Homo sapiens: one gene and its partner. The protein of the gene in region 2 purifies or fractionates together with the protein of the main gene of each other region. This does not show direct contact. Each region holds a gene or a part of one and is shown on either strand. Other genes may lie near its edges.

Region 1 (7,000 bases), on a different chromosome or scaffold from region 2:
CCGCCTTGGCCTCCCAAAGTGCTGGGATTACAGGCGTGAGCCACCACACCCGGCCCCACATGGGTTTTCAAATCAGCCATGTGCAGCCCTCATCCATATCTGTGCACTATCTGTACAGCAAGTAAAGTTACCTGGGACAGTCAGACTTAAGGGTTCTTTTTAATTGATCTCTTTAGTTGCTGTAAAGTTAACTGACTTACTAAAGTTAACATGAGGACTTGAGAGCATTCTCCTTTGTGATTTGAGGAACCCATGTTATTAGGCATTACCCACCTAATAGCAACCGACTAAAATGTGACGTGGAGGTTCAGGATCAACTTCTCTGAGACGAATCGTCTTTCAAAACTTGAATTTGCTAACCAAGTTGAGGAAGTGGCAACAAACATCAAGTCACATTTTATTCGAGGTCTGCTGCAGGGTTCCTTAAATAACGAATGTATGCATTTATAGAACACTGACAGAAATGGGTTGAAAAACTACAGAAACCAAGAGGCAAGAGTACGAATTAGAAACAAACGTTGTGTAAGCACAGTTGAAGCCGATAAGCACAGGGAATTAGATTTTTATACTATTCAGAAAAACAGTCACTTGAATTTGGCTTTGGAATACCGTAATGACTGACTCAGACATAGCCATGTTTAATAGCACAGAATTTCATGACATCGTCACAACCTGAAAGTCTGCAGACTGCTGCTCCATCCTGCACTCTAACCCTAACCTCTACCCACTCCAGGCCAGGCATAGGGTTTCAATTACTGTTGAGGCTGAAATGAGATGAGATGAGAGGCTCCTCCCCAGCCTCTTCCCTTCCACCTGCCCACCCCCATCCCACTTCCGGTCTCAAGGAGAGAACTGTTTTAGTGTCTAGTTGAGCTTTAGAAAGAGCACAGATAACCGTAACTGTTTTCCAGCATGAACACCAACTTTCGCGTATAATTCTGGGATAATTTCGTACCTAGTGTTTTAATTTTTTTTTTTTTTGAGACAGAGTCTTGCACCGTCGCCCGGGCTGGAGTGCAATGGCGGCGTGATCTCAGCTCACTGCAACCTCTGCCTCCCAGGTTCAAGCGATTCTCCTGCCTCAGCCTCCCGAGTAGCTGGGATTACAGGTGCCTGCCACCATGCCCAGCTAACTTTTTGTATTTTTTAGTAGAGATGGGGTTTCACTATGCTGGCCAAAATGGTCTCAAACTCGACCTCGTGATCCACCCGCCTCGGCCTCGCAAAGTGCTGGGATTACAGGCGTGAGCCACCACGCTCAGCCGTGTTTTAATTTTTACTGCACATGAAACCAATATTGCATGTGCCCCTTAAACTGTGCATGCAAACTAAGAAACAGGCATGTCATATATAGTAAACACGGCTGCAGGGCTTCTCTACAAAACTGTTAAGAGCTTTTAGCACCCATTCCTCCATCACACTTAGTTTTTTACACATGCCTGTATCAGTAAGCCATATCAGACCCCACTTACAGTAGACTTAATATTGGTACTGAACACTGTTACAGGAATCCCATTCAAAAGATTCTTTTCTGCAGCCACCTGCTACCGTAACCTCTCTAGTATTCTCCTTCTACCCCCCAACCCACTTTGTCCTTAACTAGAGCTATGAACTATTGATATATGTGCTTACCCCAACATCCATGGAGTAAATATATAAAGCGTTAATATTTGCAGTGAGGAGCCTAGCTTTTTTCCTGGAAACTAAGGCTTGGACGTATCAAGAGAACTCTGAACCTGTTACCCGTTCTTTTAACTGTGGCCCACAGACCGGAAAAAAACACAAAAGCCTTGGTGACCTTTGAAAATCTGTCAGCATATTATTGAAATTTCTAATATTGAGAGGGAAAATGGGGGGTGGGGATAATGGGCTGGATTTTTTTTGTTACGTCTATTATTTCTAATAGTGTAATCTGCTATCCTACTTCATTTCTCTGGGGGCCACAGGGAGAGAAGTTTTCTCTTACTTTACCTGAGCCTAATTATAAGAATCCACTACTTTGTTAGTAGCAAACCTAGGTTCTACTTCTGTGGATTTTTTTTTTTTTAACAAAACAATGCAATATAAATACAAAGATTTCACGGTAGCCAACCACAGAAATTCTGTCTTATGATTGCAGCCATACAAGGAAGCACAGTTATTTCTACTTGTTCAGAGCTGAAATTAAACTTCTTCCAGAGCACCTCGAGGGGAAAGATTTAAATGATTTCTAAACAGGAAGTAAAGACAAGCACTGTAGAACATTTATAAACTTATATCCTAGACACTCAAAACTCAACGAAACAAAAAATTCTCAAAATTCAGGATCTGGTCCTTAGAAATTTGAAGGTGCTGCCAAAATAAACAGTGGTATATTTTGATTTTGTCTCCATCAAAGTCTTTGCAATTAATTTTTATTCAATAGTACATCCAGTAATAAGATTTTCATTCAGAAACTAAAGAAAAAGGACACAAGAATTTCAAGGGCTTGAATATATTTTTATATTGATATTCTGTGTCGTTCTACCCTAAAATAATACATTATTGATTACATACAGGATGAGGTGAGGTATTTGTAAAATATCTGGTAAAAAATAATTAATATACAGTATTCTACATGAGATGGAATCTTATGACTCCTTAGGTCTTCTGCAGTGTTAAAAGTGATCATCTAAATTAAACTGCTCTGAATGGACTTACAGTTGTTCCCTAAAACCATGTTAAAAAATGAAGGCTTTTACATTTTCCCAGAATTTGTGCAGAAAAGGGAAAGTACATATAATTGGCATTTATTTCTCACATCCAAAATAATGCATTCACACAAAACCAGGATCTCCCATGTTTAGCATAAAAAGAAAAAAAATACTGGATTAGAGATATAAAATCTCAGAGTAATGGTTAGGTTAATCCACTAACACCAAAGAAATTCAAGTGGTCAACAGTCTTGAAAATGCTTTATTGAAATGTGTGACTTATGTGCAGATGTGTTTGAAAGACCACAGCTTGAAAACTGATTTTTGAAACTTCTCAACAACCAAATGAAAAAAAATGAAAATCCCTAATGGGCTTGACTTCTAGTGTAACCAGAAGCCTGGTGTAAAGTTTTCCTTTAAACATTATCCATTACAGAACTAAAGAAAACAAAGCTATTGTATTTGGAAATCGTTGGAGTTTGAAGTTTCAGAGGAGAAGCAACAGTTTTTCAGACATGTAGGGTGACTTCTTTTTTGGTTACATTTGGATGAACATGGACTTCACAGTTCTCGGAAGAACACCGGAGGGGTGTTCAAGTCTGTATGCTTGTCATGTTGAAGAAACGGAGATACACGGACAGGAAAGGAAAAGGATGACAGGAGAAAGAGAGGAGACTTTGAAAAGGGCTCAGAGAAAAGAGAACTGGAACGAGACATGATTAGGTTAAGTCTAGTTATAAATTTATCAGAAGCTGTGCGCACCTTTTTAAAAGTCCTAAATTTACATTCCAAAAACTGCCCTCCCAACCCCCAAACCCGCTGTCCCTGCCTTGGAGCTATTGTGAAAGTCTATGCACAAAAACTGAAACAGGAAATAAAAAATAACCCGGCCCTTCCAAACCCCAAAACAAACCCAAAAAAAGCTGTACATTTTTTTTACACATAGGATTAATAATATAGGCATATAGGTGGCATGATTCAATTAAAAGGCTTTACTTTTTATGCCAGAAAAAACCCAATAAATAAAAGGTGCTAAAATTAGCATTAAGAATTTGGTTGTAATATACTGACAAATCTGGGAAGGCAAATCCTCAAAGCTCCCCTGATACTGATCTGTCTCAGCAAACTACAAAGCAAATACATAAATAATGCAAAATATGATTGAGAATGTGAGATTTTTAAAAACAAAGACAACATAATTCAGGTTAACTCTGTTGAACAGTCAATAAATGAAATTCATCTACACCTGAATAAAACATATTTAACAATTGAAAAAATTTTAAACAACCACAAAAAGTAAAAACTTTAAACAAACATGAACAGGATTTGTTTTTAGGGCACACAAAGGCCCCTGCAGCAGATTCCAACAGTAGCTTTACTGGTGTGTCTTCTACAGATGAGTTAAAGAGACAGGCTGAGCTCCACACAGGCAAGATGACTAACAGGGCGACAGGACAGTCACACAGGGCGGAGTGCCACACCCGGCTATAATCCCCAGATTCCACTGCAGAGCTGGCTTTGTGCGTAGGAGGCACACAAAGAAAGGTGATTCAGGCAGACATTATTCAAAAGCTACTTCGTCGTGTAACCATTGAATAATGTTTGGGAAAGCTTTGGGCTTTGTATTTTTTTTTTAAGTTTTACTCCTTGTATTTAACTTCTTAAATAACAAGGTCACTAAAACTCATGCACGCTGCAAAAAACCTCATGCAGTAGTTAAGGTAAACCATCCAAGCAGTTTTTATTCATTAATATTCATAAATACACACAGCAGCTTCATTAGAGATTTCAATTTTCCTCTTCAGTTTGAATGTGGAGTATTAGGAGAGCCTTTTGCATGTCAAGGTACAGGAAGCAGAGATCACCCCTGCACTGCTACCTACATTTACCTGCTAGAAGTAAAAATTAGTTAAGTGGAAATGATTATCATATATATTTTCTCTCTTCCTTTTGAATGTACACAATGTAACAAGAGTGACAGACCTGAAATTACAATCACCAAACAAACCCAAGATAGTTGTTGTCCACTTTCATTGGCAAATACAGCACAGAGGACATTGTCTGCGAATTGGGATGTCATCAAAGAGGAGGTGGTGGAGGCTCATTTCCTTTATTACTCTCTTTTAAATTTAGGTTTTCTAAAGCAACATCTAAAGGCATAATATCTACACAGCCCATAGCACCAAAATCTGCCATCTCCCCCCGATCATCCTCATCTGAGGATGAGCTCTCTTCACGCACTAAAGTGGACAGAAGGAGCTCTTGGACAAACAGGCTGCGGTCTGCACGCTCGCTTTCCATGGACTGGCGCTCCGTTTCAGACATTTTAGGATCATTCAACCTGTGTAAGTTAAAAAGAAAAGACCTTATTGTTAAAAAGTCAATGAACAATGGCATGGCCAATTTCTACAGTGCTCTCCACTGTGAAGTTTTACAGGTGGCAAAATTCAGAATGAGACATTGCTGGAATACTTGGCTGTAATTTATCCTTAATTGTGTTGAGACGAATTCCCCACACTTGTTGCAATACTGTTACCTGGAGGTGCAAATCTATGCTTTAATTAGACTCAATGAGAAAAAAAAAGACATTTAGACTTTTTCCACTCCAGAGAAAGCTAGGTGAAAATTTTCTAAGGAAAACAGGATTTCTTACAGATTAGATGCTTGGGAAAGTATCTAACCAGAATTTCATCTGGGGGTAAATAAAAAGAGGAAAATAAAACACAAAAACAAAATCTGCAGTGAACAGAATATTCAACTGAAAAATATCCTAAGATTTCCTCTGACTTTTCTCTATTACTCTATTTAATTCTTCTTGGTATATGCAGAAGCTAGAAAGGGCAAGAAAACACATACATACAAACTCCTACATTTCTTCTACCAAGGACCTACAGTGTAGCAGGGCAGACACAAGGTCTACCTGCCTGACTTGCTCCCCTGATGCATGTACTTATGAGATCTGGGCTATGCTGGGAAACCTGGCTCATCTGCACAGAGACTAGACAAATTTCTTGATGAAATATAACATTTAGGATATAAATGAAACTGCAAGGCTTGTGAGGATCTTCAAGTTGGGGTTAGCAAAATGAACTGGTCCCACTGTCAAAAGATTAGATCTGGCCAGGCACGGTGGCTCATGACTGTAATCCCAGCACTTTGGGAGGCCAAGGCGGGCGGATCACCTGAGGTCAGGAGTTTGAGACCAGCCTGGCTAATGTGGTGAAACCCCATTTCTACTAAAAATACAAAAAATTAGCCAGGTGTGGGGGTGCGTGCCTATAATCCCAGCTACTCGGGAGGCTGAAGTAGGAGAATCGCTTAAACCTGGGAGGCGGTGGTTGCAGTGAGCCGAGATCGTGCCATTGCACTCCAGCTTGGGCAACAAGAGCGAAATTCTATCTCAAAAAAAGACCGATCTGACTTACACACTCCAATAATCACTTTCTAAAAGGTCAACTATCTTGGACTTCAAAGAAACTGTGACCTTACCATCAGTTGCAGGGCAACATGAATAGGAACTGCCCCTGGTCAAAGAAAAGACCAAAAATAAGGCTTGGGCCCTATATATATCACATAAGAGCTGTGTGACCAGAGAGCAGGATCTCCCCTGCATACACTGCAGCCGTTCTCCTTGCCTTGAAAATTCACAATGCATGTTAATATATTTGAAGTTCTAAGAAGCCCAACAGTAAATAATCTCTTAATTTTCCTTACTTTGCTTTCTGCAACCTTATTAATTGGGGGTGGAAGAACATAAGTAATTACATATATTCCTTTGAATATATGAAGTTAAGAGAGTATTTCTGGGGAAATATTGCCTTAAATAAATCATATGAATATAATACAATAAAAGATGTGGAAAGTGGTTTGCAAACTGCATGGTACCATAGAATGTACAGTATCAGATGATAGAAGGGGGATTTCAAGAAGCTACAACCAGAATCCACAGACAGCACTCAGAGGTCACTCATACCATGCTCTGAGAGTTGGGTGTGGAATAAATGCACAGAAAAAAATTACAGATCAAGCTGAGTAGTTTGGGTCTTAAAAAAAAAAAGGATAGGGCAAGGGTGGGTAGGAAGATGTCTTTTCCAAAGGGCACTGGCAAGACATTCCACCCACAGTTCTGTGAACTCTCAGTAGAAATGCACGCTAGTAGATCTCCTTTTTGAGGTAGGGACTTAGATCTGGTATGTTATAGACCTGCTGCTGGTCAGTCCCTATGGGGAAGGCTACATGGCAGCAGGTAGCTCCATCTGTGGCTCTGTGGTTTTCTTACATTAAAGCAGCATTATCTGGTAATAACCAGGCACAGTTACTGACCTTGC
Region 2 (7,534 bases):
AGCGTGAAACCAGGAGGCTGTACGGGAACCTCTCAAAGGCTTACGACCCTAGTTTTGATATGTGAGTGTTTTAGAAAAAAAGAAAGTGGTACAGATTTCCTAAGACAGTCCCTAAAACACCAACCCAGGGAAATTAGGCATGGAGATATAGCAAGCTAACGTTGCAGCAAGCCCTAATGAAGTTAAATTGCATTTCCTATTAATTATCTACTCTATATCATTAGTTAATTCTTCCCCAACACTTGATAAATTAGATGGCTACATTATTCTATGTGCCATGTATAAATCTCTATTCCTATTTACTCTGACGTTTAACACAGACACACATGTGACTTCCAATAACCTTTATCCTTACAACCTTCAGCTCATACCTCTTAAGAACCACATGCTCTTGATTGCAGTTCTATTTTATTGGAAATTCCATGCCTTATGTTATGCATTGAGACAGAAAATGTAAAGAAAGATGTGCTCTTGAAATATCTAATTGCATTAAGCTAGGAAGCACACAACTAACCGCACATAAGCAACTCAAGAAGGTTGAGTTTGCAGAGAAACACTCAAACAAGGCAAGGTAGGAGTTAAGGTAGTTTTATGAAACAATGACTATTCAATGCTAGTCTCTGAATATAGTGTTAAGTCAAACAAAAGATCATAACGTGAAGGTCACATTTAAAAAGTCCTACGGCCCTTAGTAAAAGGAAAAAAAGTCCTCAGTGACTGACTGGTCATGGTGGAAAAATCCAACCTCCTCTTCCCTCACCCACCTCCAGGGCACAGCCGAAAGGATAAAAGTTCTCCTAATACCCAGAAAAACAAGCTGGCCTTTTCCAGAAGAAAAAGAGCTTTCCTAGAATCAACAAAAATTGAGGATGATCATAAAAGTCTAAGAGAGAAAAAAGCACTAGGACAACTCTAACGAGCAATTTAAATACATTACATCAAAGTGGACTATTTTCTTATGTGAACTTTGGCTCAGTCTGAAGTCTTTGGAGAGGGTGGTGCCTTTTTTTCCTAGGATGGGAGGGAAAAAGCGAACATTTAGCAGAGTATGGCAGAAATGGTCTAGTGATGCTGCAGTGCCTCCTTCTCACAACGCTAAGATGGGAAGCAGACACGTGCCCTGTAGGGCATCTGCTCGTATGTCCGGCTTGAGCTCCTGCCTGAGAGTTGCTGTGGCTCTGGAGTCTCAGAAGCTGCATCACTCACACCTCCGACCATTCCCTTCCCAGGTGGACCCCCCGCCAACCAGACCCAGAGTCTGTCCTGGGGGCCAGAGGGGCAGGCACAGAAACTGGCGCCTGGCTCCCAGGATTAAGAAGACACTATTAAAAAGCATCGCTGGTTTCCCCTAAATTTGGCAGTAGGAAAATAACTTAGGACTTTCAAGAAGAGTCCTAGTCGCTCACTGATCCGTCTTTTCCCCTCACAGATTGTGACACAGGCCCATTCCCGGTGAACATTTTGGCTGGCAGTTACTTCACCACCTATTGAAATTCTGTTTACGTTTGGCCCAGAGAACCTGGACGGATGTTTGTATCTCGGGGGCCCCATCTAGTACAATTCCTGGTGCACAGGCTTGCAACAAATTTACGAAGGTAACAGACCAAGCTGCCGGCGCTGTTTTTCACTGGAGGAAAGCTCGGCGGAAGCGACACCTAGAGGGGAGCGGCGGGCTGTGGCCGCGCCATTCATCAGTGTCGGCGGCCCGCGGCCGCGAGCGAGGGCTGCTGGACAGCGCCCCGGCACCCGCTCTCGAGCCGCGACACCGACCTCGCCGGGCCCGCCCCGCTGACCCGCGCACTCCTAGTGCACTTGCCGCGCCGCGCGGAGGCTCGCCGCGCTCTGGAAAACAAGAAACCCCACTGCCTCGGCGGCTTTCCGCTCCCGCAAGAGTTGCGGGCACAAAGTCCTCAGGTGGCAGGCCTGGGGTTGGCGCCGCTTTGTCGGCTGCAGGGAGCCCCAAAGACTAGCGTCAGCTCGTCCCCAAACTCGAGGCGACAGGCGCCGAAAGCAGAGTGCTGTGCCTGCCTCGTCCAGGTCCCTCCTGAAACTCAGAACTCGTCTTTGTTTTGCGGGCGCAAAGAGGGCGGAGATCATCCACAGTGCAAGCTCTCTTAGGACCAAGCCCCCAGCCCGAACGCTGAACGCCCCCAACACACTGCTCCCTAGACACGTTCAAGCGGGTACCCCGGGCCGCTCACTCTGGACCGCGGCCGGCTACGCACAAGCAGCGCCGCAGGCTGCCTGGAGTCGGGTCGTGCCCTGATTCCTTCCTCCCCAGCCTCACATGCGGCGGACCCCGGGGAAGCCAGGGCCAGGCGAAGCGCAGCGGGCCCTTTGGGCTGCAGCGAGGAGACGCAAGTTTCCCCGCAAAGCCGCGGGGAGGAGGTGCTGAGAATGCCTGCCCGGCGCCCCAACCCGGAGCCAAGGGCACCGGGCCCGGGCCGAGGGGCCGCGCTCGCCTGGCTCCGCCGGGGCCGCTCGGGGTCCTGAACCCAAGAACGGCGCCTGCAGGATTTCGGAGCCGGGCGCGAGCTGCGGGCTCGGCCCGAGCGCTTCTGCGTGGCGCCCCGCGTGCCAACCGGGTCACTCCGGTCCCCACCGTAGACCCCGGCCACGAGCCTCGGCGTCCCAGCCTCTCCTCGAGTCCTGGCCTTGGCCGGGGTAGCCCTGCCGAGCCCTGGCCCAGCGGTCCCTTCCCCGCGGGCAAACTTGGCTTTCCCGGCGCGGGCAGTAAGGACAAGCAAGCGCCCGCGCCGGGCCCTGCAGCAAGATGCGGGGCCGCGGGCGCCAGGACCCCAGTGGGGTGCAGCGGGACCGGCTGGTGGCGGCGCCAGCGACATGGCACCCTCCCCGCGCCCGCTGGGAGCTGCGCCCGCGTACCTGAGACGGCCGGGGCCGAGGGGAAGACCAGGTGGCCGGACTTGGGCGGGAGGGAGGGAGCACCCCGTGGCGGCGGCGGCGACCCCGCCCCGCGTCCTTCGGCTGGTTTCTCGGGCTGTCGGCGGGTCCCGGGCTCGCTGGAGGCTGTTGAGGCTCCAGCTCCCTGAGCCGCCGCTGCCCGCTGCTGTGCCACCGCCGCCGCGGCTGCCCTATTTCTGCCGCCGGGACCGGAGCCCGTGACGTCACCCTCTGGGCCCCGCCTGCCCAATCGCCGCCACCTGTGCGCGCCGCCCGCCCGCCAGCCGGTCAGACCCGCGCGGCGGCCACGGCAGGTGCGCGGAGCAGGCGGGCGCGCACGCGGGGCGCGATGACTCCGGAGCGCTGGGGCCATCTAGGGCCCGGAGGGAGGAGGGCCAGCGTAGCGCTCCTGCCTCTGGCTAGCGTGGAGCTCGGCAAGTGACAGCCCCTCTTCACCTCTGCTCTCCTCCAGGCTCCTTTCCGGGCCAGGTTCCCCAAAGCTGTGCTCTCCAGGCGCACAGGGGGTCTCTGAATCCGCGGCCATTGCTCGTGGAGTCCAGGCGGGCCGGTACACCACAGCAGGAGAGCTGTCCCTGGGGACAAAGTGGGTGAAATCCCCCGCCGTTGAGACCCAACAACCTGGGAAACAGCAAAGGTTTTCTCTTTTCTGAATCTTCCCTCTTCCAACTACAGAATCTTAAGACATTCAGGGCATACAGGGGCAATCCCAAGTGACATTTGCCTACCTGACCTAGCTGGGCCCAGAGGGTCCCTTCTCCCTTAGAACAGGATATTTCCCCATCCTGATCCCATCCCCAAGCCTGGGGCTCCCAAACTTTTCTGAATCCCTCTTTAACATCAGCAGCTTTTGAGATCAGTCTTCCTTCCCGAATGAACTGGAAACACCTTTGTAACAACTAGGGGCCCATAAATGGTCATACGTAGCCTCAGTCTGGCAGGAAACTTAGGAGGGAGCCCCTACCCAGGCCAGGCTGATGGCCAGGAGACTTTCTGAGGGCCTGCCTCCTGCTCTGGCTGCGTGGGCACCAGGGGCCTTCCTGGCTTAGGTGAACAGTGTTCTGTCCATGCCTCTGTAATCTCTCCTGGCCGGGGGGAGGTGACAGAGGGGATTTTTCTGAGGATGAAGTTAGTTAAATATAAGGAAAAGGGGAAGAATAATGGAAGGCTGACCTGAAGAAAGAGATATTACGTTTGTTTTTTCCTTCCACAGATTTTCCTGCCGCTGAACCCCTCCAATGCAGCAGGCACTGTGCTATTAATAGTTGCTAGAGATACAGCAGTGAATGGGCCAGCGCGGTCTTGGCATCACACAGTTTTGGTCTGGGGTCCAGCTCTCCCTCTATCACTGCCAAGCTATGTAATGCAGAGCCAATCGTATCTCTACTGTAGGTATCAGTTTCCCCACTTGTAAAATGAGGGGTTGGACAAAACCTGGTTGACTTCCCATGTGGATACCATGATTTTTACTCAGAAGGATAAAGGCTACTACATCCTCAGTGACCCTGGGCCCTAGCCAGTGTGATCCTCTCTCAGATTTGACTATGAATCTTTGCCAAGGCCACCATGACTGAACTTCTGGGGCTGGCTAGGGGCCAGATTCTCCATGGCAGGACTGGGGAAGGGATGGCACTTTTCATCTTGGGAAACAGAAAAGAGAAAATGAGTATAAAAGGAAGCAGGGAAGTTTGGAAATGTGCTGTGCCTCCCTCTGAAATGTAATTCTAAGTCTGTGGTCAGGAACGTACACCATGGCTTAGAGGCTGGATTCGGCTCTCCTCTAAGACATGAGGTATTTGGAAAAGCAGATTTCTATTCTCAGCTCTGATCACAAAGTCCCTGAGTCAACCTAGTGGCCTTATTACATAATCAAAGCAGGACTTTGTGTATTTTTTGTTTTTTAGTAACTCAAGGTCATATGTAAATCAGGGTCTATAGGTTGACCAAGATCAGAAATAGCTCTGTTTAATGCAGTGAACAGGCACTGAACTTCTACACGCTTCCCAAAGAAGGAGAAGAAGGTAGTTGCTGCAAACCAGATGTATGGAATATTCCTTAGAGAGAATGCTAACATCTGAAGTGAGCTGTTTAACTACTGTGCATAAAATAAGAGTGAAATTAAAAGTCACCTCGGAATGAGAAAGGTGAAGTGTGAATGACAAAATAAAACAAGGCTCCAGGGAAGCAGCATCAGATGCCAGTAACCTTGACACCTCTTTGAATTGCTCTGTGCTTTTACCTCTCAGTGTAATTTTTTGTTTAATAGTACACCCCAAATTGGAAAATAGGCTAGATTTCACACTGAGAATTTCAAAATTTGCCTGAAACCCTGTTTCAGAACTTGCAAGCATACTGATTCTCAATAGCCAACTAGGATTCTTAGGGGAAATAATGGTTAAGTTTTGAACTTCATGTAATTCAATAAGCTTGGAATAGGGGAGCTAAAAGGAAACATAAATTCCAGTTACTGCCCCCCAGCCCCACTCTGTTTTTGGTGAGTGGTTCAGCCAGAGACACACATAAAAACATTATTAATATACTTTTACAAGATCAAAAAGTTTAAGCAACCCAAATATTTTTTTACGTTGCTGGTTTAAAATCTTTTTTCTATTTCTAATCCTTACCAAAAACACAACAATATAATGAAAAACTACTGCCAAATGATGTGTGTCTCTTAGGACATTTCAGATTACACCTGCATATCAGGATACTCAGAGATGACACATAGCCATGGGAATCAGGAGGAAGCAAGGCACTTTCTCCAGATCCAACCAAAAGTATCTGCATCACTAACTGTGGGTCAGCTTACCCTTGGGAGTCCCCACTAGGCTGGTCAAACAGTGCCTAGAAATACCCATTAGAAGCCAGACTGGGAAGTCATGTGAGAAGGTGGGAAAAGGCAGGAAAGAGTCTTCCTTGTCTTGCATAATTTAACGTTCTGCTGCCTGTTCAAAAAATGTTTTTGTAAATCTTCAAACCAAACCATGCAGTTTACTGAAGAGCCAGCCCTGTGCTTAGGAGAGCCCTGGATGGGAGGCACAAGGATGGGGTCTCTCTCCCGCCTCAGCCTCTAGGGCTCAGTGAGCCTGGGAGAGTCACACCTTTCCCAGAACTTGTTTTCTCTTAAGTGGGAATTGGGAATGGGTACATGGGAGGCAGTCATACTAAACGACATGTCTAAGGCCATTTTCAGTTCTAAAGGTCTATGCCTTTATTTTGCCTGTATTTATAGAAGTTCAGTTATTCTGATCTAAACAGAGCTATGATGTTGAAGTTTTCCTCTAAGTCTAATATTAATGCTTATTTTTAAGATGATAATTCATTAATCACCTAGAAATTAAGGGAATGTAGGCAGTAAGTTCAAGATCCTAGACTTAAGATTACACATACATAATTGTTTTTAACTTTATTTCAGGGAGAAAAGTAGCTAGCATGGAGATAAGGTATTCATTCAAGGGACAACTGTGATTGGGGAAATTTTTCGAGACAAAGAAGAAGTGGTATAGAGTAGGAATTTTAATGAAGAAGTTGGGATAAATGAGAAGATGCAGTGATGGAAAGGGAATTGTGAATGGTAAAAATGGAGGGAGATGAACATAAAACCCTCACCATGGCATTGTTACCAAGGCAAATTCCCAGCAAACTCACAGGGGCTGGATTGATGGCACAAGGGGACCAAGAAAGGTGCTGATAACAGGAGGAAACTGAAGTCTGCTACTCTTAAGAATGTATTGTTTACAAGGGATAATTGGGGATGAGATGGCCAGGCCTACAGCCACAAACTATCATACCCTACTGAGTATAGGCAAAAGGGATGAAAGAGGGAACATATTAAGAGGAGAGTGAAAAGAGGGGCCAATTTCCTTTCTTTGAAAGGGACAACATAATTTTTATCATGACCCTGTTTTCCAACTCACCAGTATAGAATCATAAATAATGTGAAAATCTAAATCTATCTATCTATCTATCTATCTATCTATCTATCTATCTATCTAATTTTAAAGGTGAACTGCTACCTTAGGGAGCTTCCATTCTTTCTTTTCCTCTTCTTTTCTTTTTGAGACAGGGTCTTACTCTGTCACCCAGGCTGGAGTCCAGTGGTGGGATCACAGCTCACTGTAGCCTCAACCTCCCTGGGCTCAGGTGATCCTCCCACCTTAGCCTCCCAATAGCTGGGACTACAGGCATGCACTACCATACCCAGGTAATTTTTGTACTTTTTGTAGAGACGGGGTCTCCCTATGTTGCCCAGGCTGGTCTTGAACTCCTGGGCTCAAGTAATTTGCCCCACCTCGGCCTCCCAAAGAGCTGGGATTACAGGCATGAGCTACCTGGCTGGCTGAAGCTTCCATTCTTCTAAATAAACGTTCCTTTCAAATGAATATGCAGTATTATGATGGGTCACCTCAAGGGCTATGAAGACAACTATCCAACCTTCAGGGGTATAAGATGGTACTGGACTTAGTTGATAGGCCACCCTAGATCTGAGCAGCCATTCTGACCTCTTTGACCCTAACCTGGACCAGGGCTTTGGACACTTACTTGTCTTGCTTCCTAGCAAGAGTGGCCCTATTAACTGTTCCATGCCATCTCCACAGTCTTAGAGCCAGTTCCC

The links. The genes of interacting proteins can lie anywhere in the genome.
Region 1: the proteins of FSTL4 (region 2) and KCMF1 purify together in Homo sapiens (affinity purification with mass spectrometry; 2 studies listed by BioGRID and IntAct, with this or other methods). This does not show direct contact.

Annotation. Positions count from the first base shown.
Region 1 is NC_000002.12:85,051,161-85,058,160, reverse strand, and holds part of KCMF1 (E3 ubiquitin-protein ligase KCMF1), read right to left. Parts: intron 5,014-7,000; coding exon 4,752-5,013; 3' UTR 1-4,751. UniProt on the Homo sapiens protein: E3 ubiquitin-protein ligase which accepts ubiquitin from an E2 ubiquitin-conjugating enzyme and then transfers it to targeted substrates, promoting their degradation by the proteasome.
Region 2 is NC_000005.10:133,609,442-133,616,975, forward strand, and holds the start of FSTL4 (follistatin-related protein 4 precursor), read right to left. Parts: upstream 3,101-7,534; 5' UTR 2,884-3,100; intron 1-2,883.